Linked DNA regions of Homo sapiens. The protein of the gene in region 1 purifies or fractionates together with the protein of each later gene. This does not show direct contact. Each region holds a gene or a part of one and is shown in the gene's direction. Other genes may lie near its edges.

Region 1 (7,026 bases):
AACTCACAAGTTTGGGACCAGCCTGGGCAGCATGACAAAACCCCGTCTCTACAAAAAATATAAAAATTAGCCAGGTGTGGTGGTACACACCTGTAGTCCCAGCTACTTGGGAGGATGGCTTGAGCCCAGAAGTCAGAGGTTGCAGTGAACCAAGATGGCACCACTGCACTTCAGCCTGGGCCAAATAAGGTAGTTCACACCTGTAATCCCAGCACTTTGGGAGGCCAAGGCAGGCAGATCACTTGAGCCCAGGAGTTTTGAGAGAAGCCTGTACAACATGGCAAAACCCCATCTCTACAAAAAAAAATGCAAAAATTAGCCAGGCATGGTGGCACACACCTCTAGTCCTAGCTAGTTGGGAGGCTTAGGTGGGAGAATTGCTTGAGCCCAGGAAGCAGAGGTTGCAGTGAGCCAAGATTGAGCCACTGCACTCTAGCCTGGGCAACAAAGTGAGACCTTGCCACAAAACACAATAAACTATGTGCCACCTAGTTTACTCTATACTTGTCAAAGCCAAAAGTCAAGTCACCAATAATTTTTGAGAGACATATGAGGTCTTCAAAGAAAACAAGAAATAACTTTAAGCTTATTGATCACCTGCATTAGTATATCAGTATGTGTACAGAGGCCTAAAACTTATCGGCCAAACTATTTGTATCTCATTCACGATGTACATATATTCAGGCAGTCTCCAATTTAAACCTGGTTGTGTCCCTAAAGTTGAGAACCTGAAAAGCATTTTTTAAGGAATAATATTGATGCAAATATGCTGTGGTTGCAGGGGCCACCATGGTGGTGTCAGCAACTGCCTGAGTCAGGAGGAAGAGGGTCCTAGGGAACAATCAACTTTCTACCACCGTTAAGGCAGGAACATAGTTCTCCGTCAGGATCAGCTTCTCCATACAGATGTGATTTTCTTCCATAATCAGCACCCACGATCAACAGGATAGGAGAACTAAGGCTGGTATTAGAATGTGACACGTGCTGACAGCATGCCCCAGCATTCAAGAGTGCAAGAGAGAGGCTGCACACTACCAGTGTGATCATGGAGCACTCTCACTGACCCCTTAGGACCCAGAGCACACAGATGACCTTACCCCTCCCAAGTTAACTGGCAGGGCTGCCATCCCTTCTGCACTGATTGCTCTCATGGTCTGTTCTTATGTCATCATCTGTGGTCACTGTTGTGGGGCTCTGTAACTGTCTTTCTTTCTTACAGCCTTTCAGTAGTTGTGAGTTGCAAACCTCACTGTGACAGCTGGGAGAGTAGCAGCTAATCACAGAGCGACATACCCAGAGTTCACCGAAACGTCTCTGTGGAATTGAGAAATGTGGCTGACTCTCACCCTGTTGACTGTGTCACGCCAGCCTTTACCATACAGGGCTATGCTTTAGAGAGCTGGATTTGCTATACAAGCATGCACACAGGAACAGTGCTATCACACATGCTGTGTTCCAGGTGTAGGACTTGAAAATCTAGTGAGAAAAAGCAAACAGTTCACTCTTCTTGGCCACGATGATGAAATCCATAGAGACCCACCACCAGGGGATAATGGGAAGACCTGAGTACAAGCATTAGGGGAAGAAATGGAAAACCATGCACCTGTTGTATGGCCATGGCCAAGGGTTTTCTACCTATTTGGGGAGTACTGGGGTTGTTTGGGGGGAGCTGATTAAATATGTTCCCGTAGACCTGTTCCAGGCTGCTGGGGTGGCCATGGTGTTCCCATTGGTGCTCACGCCAAAGTCAACAGCTGTTCCCCAAGAACTGCTCCCTAGCATCTCACACCTAAAAGCACCTTATGAGACAGATCAAGCAGTGCAGAAGCACCTGGACTTTGGGGAAACGGAAAGGACATTGGATCAGTTTGGGAACCTGTCAATAGTCAAAGCATCATATATGCCATGATAACTTTTCACTGATGCTCCCATATCTTGGCAGTGCCACCCTTTGTGAGAACCCATTCTAGACAGGCATCATTTAGCTTCTCCCCCATCCTCACCACCCCCTTTGCTTAGAAGGTCCTTATGCACTGGATCATCTGTTTGGGTTTGTAACACAGAGGGCATGTGCAGATAGTCAATCGTCTGGTTTTTCTTAATTGAAATGTTATCTCTCTCCCCATTGACAGCTTCACCAGCAAGACACACGACATCAGTATCCCCCTCGCCTGCCGGGCGATCTCCATTGAAGGTAAAGGCCCTTCTTTCGACTGAGGCTAGAGACTGGCCCAGTTTTCTTTTTCTCTAAGACTCATCCCAGATATATCAAAAGGTGCTTTAATTTGCAGGGACCAGGCAAAGAACTTATCAATCAGGGATAGGGGAAGCTGGTTGAGAAAAACAACACTGGACTTTCCCTTCTGGGTGCCTCCTGCACAAACGCAGCCATTTGTTTTTCGATTATTAGCCTCATTCTCCAAATGGTAGCAGTGAGAACTTGCAGACTGAAGTCAGTGCATATACTGAATTAGGAAAGGAATGTGGTCCTAATGTACCTCCTAGGAAACTTTCAGCCTGGCCTTTTAGTTTAAGGTACATCAAACACACACACACACACTTAGATTGAGAAACATCAGTATCAAGATCTACTAAATATTCTGTGTCTTTTTGCCTTTATCGTCAGCCAAACCCATTTTGTCAAAGCCAAACCTAACATTCTCTGTTAATATTTTATACCAAGTTTCTCATTTACATTAGAAATACATACTTGATCATGAAAAACAAGGCAGTAATATGGATTTAAAAGATTTCTAGGGAACAAACTGGAAAGCTGTAAAGGTCAGACATTCGAATTGGTTTGTAGACATGGGCTATTTAACATCTTTAAACATAAAAAATCCCTCATGAAGATAAAGAATAATATTTAGTCTTATCCAAATTGAATCAGACCGGCTTCAAGGATTGTCAGTACGTGAGAGATTGGTGTTCAGAACTGCTGCACCAGAGGCAAATATGAAGTGTGTCGAAAGAATGATTTTGTACCTGAGTGACTTAGGATTTACACGCTCCATGTCCTTTGTGTGATGAGCTAGTTCTAGCTAATGTGCAAAAGACAAATTAGCCTCTACAAACACATAGGGGCAGGTTGCGATCCAGTGCATCTGTGGTGCTAACGATAGTTGCTGATAGAAATTGAGAAACGGGAAAACAACCCGCCTCCCCCCGCAAAATGGAGAAAATTGAAAGAAGTGTGATTCCCTTGCATTGCCAGAATTTCTGACGTAGAAATTCGCGGGTAAGTGCAAGTGATTTGCTCGTTTTGTTCTCATTCTGTAATGCAGCTGTTATTATGAAGTACCTGTGACAGCATTCACTCTGGAAGTCATAGCCTGTCACCTCGATGTGATAGAAAGGAAAGCAACATGGCTTTTCCGCACTTTTACATTTGCCCTTACTCACACAGAGCTCCCACACGTTGCTATGGAATTATCATCTGTATTTTTCAACTTAAATTTTGTTGGGTAGTAAGAAAATAAGTCTTAAGAGATTAATTCTTAAACATTAAAAAGAACCCAAGAGCTAAAAATGTTTGAATAGCTATAAAATAGTCTTAGCAAGCTGGTATATACTGTCTCTCAGCAGACCTGTGTACATTTTTACTGGCCATATGCAGTTCGAAGCCATGTCTTTATATGTAGGGTTTGAAGGAAGAGAACATAGATCGAACATTTGTGTTATACCTCCTGGGTTACATTAGGGGGCACACTGCTACCATGTTACTAGCCTTGCAGTGTGCTGCCTTAACTGATAAGAGTTTAGTGGGGTTTTGGGTTTTTTTTTTACCCCAGCCAGCCATCAAACTGTGGGTCTAACCCTACAGCGAAGACTGAGCTGACCTGCCATATTTTGAATTTCAGGTCTAACTTTTGACAGAGGTAGCAGTGAATTGGGAACTCTTAATTGGCCTTAATGTTAGGCTCCTACTAAATGACAGGATGTGTATCTACCAGCGTTATTTTGTTTACAAAGAGAAACCAAAGTCAAGTTAGCTTAAGAAGATAGCATTTCTCAAAGTGTATACCATAGAACACTAGTTTTCCAGGACATTATGTAATAAGCGGGGGAGAAAAGGTCTATAGTCAAGTAAGTTTGGAAAACACTGGACTGAACAAAATTATTTGTATTCCTTTATTCTAAGCCTTGAAAATGCGAATATGTTTTGAATATACACAAGGAGTATACAGTGTGCAGCATTTCCCAGCGGAACCCTCTTTTCACAGAGCATCTATCTTAGGACTCGTTTTCCTTGGGATACTAGTTGGGAAAGTAACAAACTCAGATGCCAAATGGGGCCAGACAGCTGACACAAATGAAGGAGGCCGGGTGTAGTCCCCACGTGGCATAGTGGGGACTGGCAAAGTGAAAAGGGACAGCCCTTCTCAGCTTTTAAAGATTATCTCTATTAAGAGAATGTGTGCCATTGTGGCCAGAACTCCTAGTTCTTTATGAACTGCCAGAATTCTGGAGTTTCATGTGAAATTTGAAATGTTAAAAATTAACTAAATTAGGTTTTTAAAAAACTGCTGAGGAAACAGCTCACATCACAGGCTACAGCCCCGAGGGCTGCCAGTTCGCCAGTTCAGCTCAGGAGTCTGGAGTCTGGAGTGATGGCTGGAGAAATCAGGTGCAGAACCTCGGGTGCCTCTGCTCCTCCTCCTGAGCTCTCTGGGTCTTCTGAGCTGAGTGTGCTCAGCGGCCCTGGCTCCTGGCCTGCAGCATGCCCTGCTGAGCTGGGAAAGTGAATAGCGCCCCCAAAGGTTTTATGGCGTTTTTAGGTTTTTGGGGTTTTTGGCCAGTTCCCTCTCTTCCAAACTATAGGACTAATGTGTGCCTCCAGATTATCTTGGTGGATACCTTTATTTATTTTTTGAGACAGGGTCTCATTGTGTTGCCCAGGCTGGAGTGCACTGGTGGCTCCACGGCTCACTGCAGTCTCAACCTCCCAAGGTTCAGGTGATCCTCCCAGAGGAACTGGGATTACAGGCATGAGCCACCACGCCCAGCTAACCCTTTGGATTTTTAGTAGAAATGGGGTTTTGCCATGTTGCCCAGGCTGGTCTCAAGCTCCTGGCCTCAAGTGATCCCTGCATCGGCCTTCTAAAGTATTGGGATTACAGGCGTGAGCCACCATGCCCAGCTCCTTTCTCCTCTATCTGAAAATGATAAGGAGTAAACTGGGCGGTGAACTGAACTCGAGGACTGGTGGCCCTCGCAGATAAACGTCTGGTGTGCATTTTCAGTGCTACAAAGGACAACACTCAAATTTGAGTGTGAGTGTATTCGTCTGCTCGGGCTTCCCTCACAAAATACCACAAACTGGGTGGCTTAGACACTGGGAATGTATTTTCTCAATTCTGGCAGGTAGAAGTCCAGGATCAATGCGTGGCAGCCTTGGTTTCCCCGAGGCCTCCCTCCTGGGCTTGCAGACCGCCCTTCCTGCAAGGTCTGTGTGTGTCGCATTCCTGACGTCTCCCTGTGTGTCCAAATGTCTCTTATAAGGACACCAGTCAGCTTGGATTAGGATCCACCATAATGGCCTTTTACCTTAATCACCTCCTTAAAGGCTGCATCTCCTGCTGCAGCCGGCTTTGGGGGTGCTGGGGGCCGGGGCCTCCGCGTCGGGGCGTACATTTCAGCGCATCTGCGTTCACGACTCAATGCTGTGTCTCCCTCTCGTTTCCTTCTCCCCGGAGCAGGGCTCTGTGCAGTCTTTCACCCCCTCTCCAGTGGAGTACCACTCGCCAGGACTCATCTCCAACTCCCCTGTCTTGTCGGGCAGCTACAGCAGTGGGATTTCTTCTCTCAGCCGGTGCAGCACGTCGGAAACCTCAGGCTTTGAAAATCAGGTGAATGAACAGTCGGCCCCCCTGCCGGTGCCAGTGCCGGTGCCCGTGCCGAGCTACGGCGGGGAGGAGCCAGTGCGCAAGGAGAGCAAGACTCCGCCCCCGTACAGCGTCTACGAGCGGACTCTGCGGCGCCCCGTCCCGCTACCTCACAGCCTCTCCATCCCCGTCACGTCGGAGCCGCCCGCGCTGCCCCCCAAGCCTCTGGCAGCGCGATCCAGCCACCTGGAGAATGGGGCCCGGAGGACTGACCCCGGCCCGCGGCCCAGGCCCCTGCCCCGCAAGGTCTCTCAGTTATAAGTCACTTTTCTATGTACCTGCGATGCATTCTTTGCCCGTTTACAAAATAAGAAGTATGATGAGAAGACATTTAGTGTAGGCACTTTAATAACTTACTCAGCTCCTTCGATGAATGGAATTAAAACTTGCTTATTAAATATCATGTTGCACAATATTAAAAGTTGCTGATCTAAAACGCCAGATGTTAAATGAAGTATGGCTGAATTTCATTAAAACGTTTCTCATTTGGAAGTGGTAAATAGTGATAAAGACTCCTTTTGTACCTTTTTATGTTCACTTTTTTTTATATAGTTTAATCTTAAAACCAATACGATATTGTCAAACGATACAATGTGTGACAATGTTGTATCGTTTTTACTGAATACTTGATACTTGGAGAAAGCTTATTAAGTCAGTGCACATCCTAACACAGTGGTCCTTATTTTAGAAGACTTCTGTAAATAAGGCAAGGTTTATCAGTGCAGATCATCAGAATTAAAGTTCAAGCAGGCGAGCAAGACAGTATACTTAAGGGGTTGCAAAGCTTGGGACTGGAAATTGTTTTGTTCTTGAAACAAAATACTTCTTTAAGGTTGCTTTTGCTGTTTGACTGCTGTCTACATTCGTAAAATTCTATTTTGTGAATTGGTAGCTAAATCCCTTACTACCCTGACACCGTGGTATCTACTGTATTTCTTTTCAAGGTGCAATTTGCTTCAGAGTTCCAATCAGCTAGATTAAGCAAGAGGCTCCAGAAGAAATGTTTACTTGAATTTTGCGCTTCCTTTCTTGATAGTTTCCTATATAAAATTTGTCATTGAACAAGAGCAAATGCTGAAGTATTAATGAGGCACAAATGACTGTGCCCCATTAGCAAGAATTCAGGAATCAATACAGACAG
Region 2 (7,026 bases), on another chromosome or scaffold:
AAGCAATCCTGCCTTGGCCTTTCAAAGCCTTGGGATTACATGCATGAGCCACGCACCCAGCAAGACAGCTTAAATAGAAAACCTTCCTCTATTAAACCAGTATCTGTTTCTCTGTGACTTACCATCGTTAGTGGGCCTCCCAGATGCCTCCAGTATTCCCTTGGTAGGAATTTTTTAAATCCATAGGCCAAAGCGGTACAGAAAAGATGCAGATAACTACAGATTGGTTTTGGCATACTAATAACTCCCTGATTGATTCCACAAACATTTATTTAGCAACTCCTAAGCTGTGTGAAAAAACTAGTTCTGCCTCAGGTTTGGATGTCCACAGAAGGGCCTCTGTGAGCTATCCACAGAGTAGTAACCTGCTCCAAGGAGCAGATGGCACATATCTTGTCCCTGGCCTCCTAGTCCCGGGCTGCACGCCAGCTGATGGAGAGGACCCAGTCATCCAACATGGAGACCCGGCTGGATGCCATGAAGGAGCTGGCCAAGCTCTCTGCCGACGTGACTTTCGCTACTGAGTTCATCAACATGGATGGCATCATTGTGCTGACAAGGCTCGTGGAAAGTGGAACCAAGCTCTTGTCCCAGTGAGTATGACTAAGGTCTCGTTCCAAGGACTTCGACGATTTACTACATCCCACAGGGCATCCTAGTCTCATTTCCCTTGAGTCAAATAAGGAGTTTATTGAATACCACCTGTGTGCAGAGCAGTGTGCCAAGCACTAGAGTCCATACCAAGATATATAATTCCATATTGTGATTCTAAATCGTGTAGTCTATTTGGGCTCTCACAAATTAAATAACAGTACAAAACAGTACTGTGCCAAGTGAGCAGTGAAAATAGGGGCTAGAGAAGTCAGGAGGAGAGCAGTCACGTCGTGACAGACCTGTTAATTGCTGGAAATGTTTGGTTTGATGAGGGTTAGTGAGCAGATGGTCCAGTATCTCCCAGGTGTCTGTTTGTAATCATCCCCTGCTCCTCCCTCTTCAGTCACCTCCCAGCCCATACACACACACACACACACACACACACGCCTTCCTTTGTGTTTACCACAGGTGTCAACCTACCCATTCACCATCTCCCTGCCACACTTTTGCACAGGGAGGAGGAGACCAGAACTTTGTGATACCCACAAGCATCTTCATCATACCCCAGAGTTCACATGCATGCGGTGGGCAGCTGTGCCTTGTGAGCAGCAGTCAGTAAACAGGTGCTTGGAGCCTAACCTGCCAAAGAGGGAGTCAGAAATCTTCTCAGCCCATAGATCAACTATTGAAATTGTTAGCCAAATCGAGTAACTAATCATAGATATTTGTTTTACATATTGGATCTTCCAGCTGTATTGAAGTCCTGAAGCCTTCAGCTGCCATCAGCACTGACATAGTTCTACAGTCTCCCAAGGGTACAGGGTTAGACTGGCCTTAGTTTCACTCTCTTCAGCCTGAGGATAATAATAGCTACCTTGCAGTATTATTGTGAGAAGTATTGTTAATGAGAATGTGTCTGAACATGCTTTGTAAATAGGAATATCATCTGTTAATTCTAGAGCACTGTACAGATGTATAAAGGATTAAATGTATAAGGAGAAGAGAAAAAAGAGAAAACATTTTAATCCTTATTCTCTACCAGCACTAGAATAAGAGCTTTGCATACATCATCATCTTGTCGTCTCCACAACCCTGTGAGGTTAACGCTGTGAGACTAACTTGATTTTACAGAGGAAGAAATTGAATTTTGAAAAGATAAAATTTGCTTGGTTAGTAAGGTGGACAGGAACTGAACCCATCTCTTGCACTCTACTGCCTCTTGGCCCAAAGGTTAACATGGCACTTACACTTCCTTAGGTTCTCCCAACAGGTGTTGGAGTTTGACAAAGGTCCAATGTCTTCTTTGGTCTTGGGAAATAGATAAGTGATTCTGTGTCCCTGGGATGAAGCATATGGAGAAGGAAGATCTAATTACCCAGCAACATTTTTTTTTTTTTTTTTTTTTGCAGCGATAGATACCTGGGCTGAATCTGCTCTACACTGGCTAGGTGTGCACACAGGCACTTACAGTTACAGTTGCATCGACTGATTTCCCATGGGGTGTTCACATTAAAATTCATCTTTTTTGTGGCTGCCCTCACACCTGTGTTTCCCGATCTGAATCTTTGTCTATTTTGTGTGTGTGTTGCACGTGTCTCAGCTACAGTGAGATGCTGGCATTCACCCTGACTGCCTTCCTAGAGCTCATGGACCATGGCATTGTCTCCTGGGACATGGTTTCAATCACCTTTATTAAGCAGGTGAGGCCTCCAACATTCTGTCTTTCTCTCCTCCCTCAGCTGCCAGTTCACAAGGCTTAAGGGGAGATACAGGCAATATCGCCATTCTGGTGAGATCAGCTTTATATTCCCTGGGGCCAGATTTTTCATCCTCAAGCTCTAGTCTTCTGTGGCTTCTGAAAGATTTGCATTTTGTTATATTCTCAGGGCCTGCACTGAGATGGAACTGGACCGTCAGAACTAAATATGATCAAAGTAGAATTAGATTGTCAGTGAGACTGGGGATAAAGCCAGCCAGTCAACCAGTACTAGCCCTGAGTCTTTTGACCGACTTCCTGAGCTCTCTCTTCTTTTTGTATATATATAAAAAAAATTTGCATTTCATTTGTAAATTTGCCTTCTATTTACAAATCTGCAAGGTAGCCTGTTTGGATTGTCAGACTAAGTTCAGTGGGTAGGAGAGGGTACTTCTGGTTTTACCCTCCTTTCTTTTACACAAAGGAGCAGTGTCAATTCAGAATACTGAACTAAAACCAATGAATAATATTGTATCTGCTGCCCTAGAACTTCAGCTATCATTGGCTTAGGACATTGGGACTCCCCGACACTGGACACAAGTGAAATGACCATGTGTCAAGGATATTATAATGGGGACTGAGAAGAAGGATTAGAGTAAAAGGCTTCAAGGTCCTTTCTACCTCTCAAAGTCTAAGTGTGTTTAGGGGGAGTGTGTGTCAGGGGAGGTACATGGAGATAAAATGAGATCCCAGTATCAGTAAAATCCTCTGCTTTTTTATACCCCACTTTCTCAAACTGGAACCCTTATTTTGATAAAAAGAATTAAGCTTTTAGATTTTGAGGAAACACAATTAAGTGGATACTATAATCTGAGATTAAGGTATCCATGCCAAGGGAATCCCTGGCACATTGGCCAGGGTAGCCGTAAACCAGATACCACTATCCACCTAGCAACAGCTGCCCAAATGTGAAGCAGAGAGAGCTTCAAGGGCTAGCATCAGATGCTAAGCTTCTATCTTTCTTGGGCCCTGAGCTTCTCAATTGATGTGCCATCTCTGGGTCTAGATTGCAGGGTATGTGAGCCAGCCCATGGTGGACGTGTCAATCCTTCAGAGGTCCCTGGCCATCCTGGAGAGCATGGTCTTGAACAGCCAGAGTCTGTACCAGAAGATAGCCGAGGAAATCACCGTGGGACAGCTCATCTCACACCTCCAGGTGTGAGTAAAAAACCCTACACCTCCCTCCCTTCACTTGTCTGTCCTCTTTTCTCCTCTTATTTTAAGTCTTCCAATCCTACTCTCCTTTGCTTATATTCCAAGCTGTTGGTTGGCTTCTTCATTCATCACCTCTTCCACACTCCTGCCAGAATTTCTCCCATCATTCAGACTTGATCATGTCATGCTCCTGCCCAAAATCCTCTGTAACTCTCTCTGCCCCTTAGGTTAAAATGAAGATTTTCCCAGTCTTCCCATACCAGGGTGGTACCAGGCAAAATTAGATGCTTTCTCACATGGGCCCAGTAGTCTCTGTACCTATGATAATTATATAAAATACTGGATTTTTATTATCTGTTGCCCATTTTGAACATAGAGCCCCCTTGAAACAGAGACCAATCATTGTTGTATCCCCTGTTTTGATTTAAGTAGAGGCTCAATTAGTGCTTGTTGAATGAATGCTCACTGAACCGACGATGCACTGTGGGTGATTTGTAAGAAATATCACACAGGTGTGAGTTTGGAATATCAGTTCAAATCCAGGCTCTTCTGCATACTAGGTCTCTGCCATCAGCAAGTAACCTAGTCTCTTCTGGCCTCAGTTTCTTCATCTCTAGAATAGGTTAATCACCTTCACCTCTCACACTGTGAGGATCAAAGGAGATTTTAAAAAGGTCCAGCATAGAGGCCAACCTGGGTTAGGTATTCAGTAAATTCAGGGGCTTTTTTCCTTTGTTTGTTTGTTAAGACTCTTATCACATCCTAAAACATTTTACCAGATACTGAGACCATATGACAAATGAACCCATTGGAGCAATGTTTCTCCCGTCTCCGCTGTTTTTACCTCACTTCCAACCAACCTACACCATGTAAGGAAGCTGGACTTTGCAAAACAGTGGTGGCACTCCTGTTGATTCTCTTCTGACTGTTGTTCACTTCTGTTTTTTAGACATTGTCAGAATGTTGCCAGAATCCCCCACCAGTTCGAGGGGAAGTCATAGCTCCCAGATTTGGGAGTTTATAGTGGCCCTGTCTTCACTCAGCTATGCTCCCAACTTGTTTTTCCCCACTAATCCAAGTAAAAAGAAAGCACAATTATTTCTTTGCAACTCTGATTTCTCCTTGTCACTTTTAAGGAATTTTCAGCCTCAGCTTTCTTTGCTTTTCTTTTTTGAGACAGGGTCTCACTCTGCCGTCCAAGCTGGAGCGCAGTGGCATGATCATAACTCACTGCAGGCTCAAGCGATCCTCCCCATCTCAGCCTCCCGAGTAGCTGGAATCACAGGCACACTCCACAACACCTGGCTAGTTTTTTTTTTTTTTTTATTTTTGTAGAGACAGGGTCTCGCTGTGTTGTCCAGGCTGGTCTCAAACTGTTGGGCTCAAGCAGTCCTCCCACCCCAGCCTCCTGAGTAGCTGGGACTACAGGTGTGAGTCACCATGCCTGGTCTAGCCTCAGCTTTCATACCCAGCGAGCCACCAAGGTTGATTAAGGTGAGAGGGACATTATAAACTCCAGATAGAGAATTCTGATTTTCCTGTAACCTCACATCTACTTCTCTGGTTTTTTTTTTTGTCTCTGAATTCAGAGTGGCCCCAGTTGCCTCCCTAGGGATGATAGGGGAACATGGCATTTCATAGGAGCCAATACTTTCAGCCCACAGCTGTCACCAGAACTTATATGCTTTCCTTTTTGGGCTGAGGGATACTTAGTGCCCTCTGTTAGACTCCCTGGGTACCATGTGACTAACCAGGAAGCCCATCAGACCCTCTGGAAAGACAGCCACAGAATGCACCCAAGACATGGCAGGTGGAGATGTCAAGTACCAGGATTGTAAGATTCCAGAGAATGATTGTAGTTATTTTGTTTGTTCATAATAAAATAAGTTTATAGTCAAAGACTTTAAAAATACAGAAAAACGCAAAATTATTTGCCCATTATCTCACCTCCAGACATACCCACTGTTAAACATTAAATTGAATGTCCCTTCAGTATTTTTATGCATATTTTTAACAAAATCGGGATCTCATTATATATACTATGTGTACCTTGATTTTTTTTAACTGAATAATACACCTTGAACATTTCTCCATGTCAAAGATTTTTCTAAAAGGGTAGTTCTAAGTCTTTTTTGCAACCTAGACACCTTTGAAAATCTGGTAACAAGTATATACTCTCACCAGTTTGGAAAAAATACCACTTAGTTGGCAAACTACATAGAATAATTTCTGTATCATTCCTGGGGTTCACAAATACTCTAAGCTCATCCCTGAATCCCAGGTTAAGAATCTTTACCCTAAAACATGACTTTTAATAACTACTTAAGATTCTCATATGTATAAATGTTGGCTAATGTGACCATTTGGATTACTTTCCATTCTTTTTTAAGTAGTACTTTAATGAAACGCCTTGTCAGTAAATCTTGCATAGCTCTCTGATTACTGTCTTAGGATAAATTCCTATTAGTGAAATTGCTGGGTCAAGAGCATGCCCACTTTGAATGCTTTTGAGACTGAGCTCCAGATCATTATTTGCTTATAATCTGTGAGTGATTGTTTTAAACCATTTCTAAGCATCATCTTGCTGTTCAGTCTTCTAATCTCCCTCTCTCTTCTTTCTCCATTGACACAGCTCCAACCAGGAGATTCAGACCTACGCCATTGCACTGATTAATGCACTTTTTCTGAAGGCTCCTGAGGACAAACGACAGGTCTGTGGCTGCCTTTTCACATTTTTCATCTGGGCTCTTCTGAGATAATTCTCACCCCATGCACTCTTTGCTATGCAGAGAGCACAAATCCAGCAATTTTCCCAAGAGTTCTTCCTCTTAGCTGTCTGGTCTGGAGCCCAGGAGGGTGGCTTTGCTAAGGAAGACCCAGGGAAGACCTATGAGGGGAAACCAGCTGGGTCTTAGATGAGAGCAGGGCCCTTCAAACTTTTTCCTCTAAAGGGCCAGAGAATAAATATGTTTGACTTTATGGGCCATATGGTCTATGTGATAGCTACTCAACCTTGCCATTGTAGCCAAAAGCAGCCTCGGCCAGTAGGTAAATGAATGGGTATGGCTGTCTTCCAATAAAATCTTATTTACAAAAACAGGCAACAGGCCTAATATGGCCATAGTTTGCCAACTCCTGGGTTACAGAATCAAGAATAAGGAAGAGGAGACCCTGTGGCTACCCTGAGTCCAAGGAGTCCAATATGAATGGGATTTCACACTAAATCTTAGGTTTAAAGGTTCTCTGATGGAGATTCTAAACATCTTCCTTCCCCTGTTCATTAACTGTGACATTATGCAGATAGCTCTGCCTCTGTGAACCTTAGTTTCCTCACCTGTCACATGGGAGCAACAACATCTGCCTTGTTTACCTCACAAGGATGTCTGAGGAAAAACAAGATCCCTGTTTCACAAATAAGGAAACTAAGAATCAGCTGGGTGGTGGAACAAACACTGACCTAAGAGCCGAGGGGCCTGGGACTAAGTATTCTCCCTGCTGCTGGCTGGACAAGTGTTTGTAAC

Evidence for each region. The genes of interacting proteins can lie anywhere in the genome.
Region 2: the proteins of DOCK4 (region 1) and ELMO2 purify together in Homo sapiens (affinity purification with mass spectrometry; 2 studies listed by BioGRID and IntAct, with this or other methods). This does not show direct contact.

The regions. Positions count from the first base shown.
Region 1 is NC_000007.14:111,727,394-111,734,419, reverse strand, and holds part of DOCK4 (dedicator of cytokinesis protein 4), read left to right. Parts: intron 1-2,132; coding exon 2,133-2,194; intron 2,195-5,699; coding exon 5,700-6,146; 3' UTR 6,147-7,026. UniProt on the Homo sapiens protein: Functions as a guanine nucleotide exchange factor (GEF) that promotes the exchange of GDP to GTP, converting inactive GDP-bound small GTPases into their active GTP-bound form. Involved in regulation of adherens junction between cells.
Region 2 is NC_000020.11:46,382,606-46,389,631, reverse strand, and holds part of ELMO2 (engulfment and cell motility protein 2), read left to right. Parts: intron 1-411; coding exon 412-593; intron 594-1,841; exon of another isoform or gene 1,842-1,932; intron 1,933-2,194; coding exon 2,195-2,294; intron 2,295-3,356; coding exon 3,357-3,508; intron 3,509-6,137; coding exon 6,138-6,216; intron 6,217-7,026. UniProt on the Homo sapiens protein: Involved in cytoskeletal rearrangements required for phagocytosis of apoptotic cells and cell motility. Acts in association with DOCK1 and CRK. Was initially proposed to be required in complex with DOCK1 to activate Rac Rho small GTPases.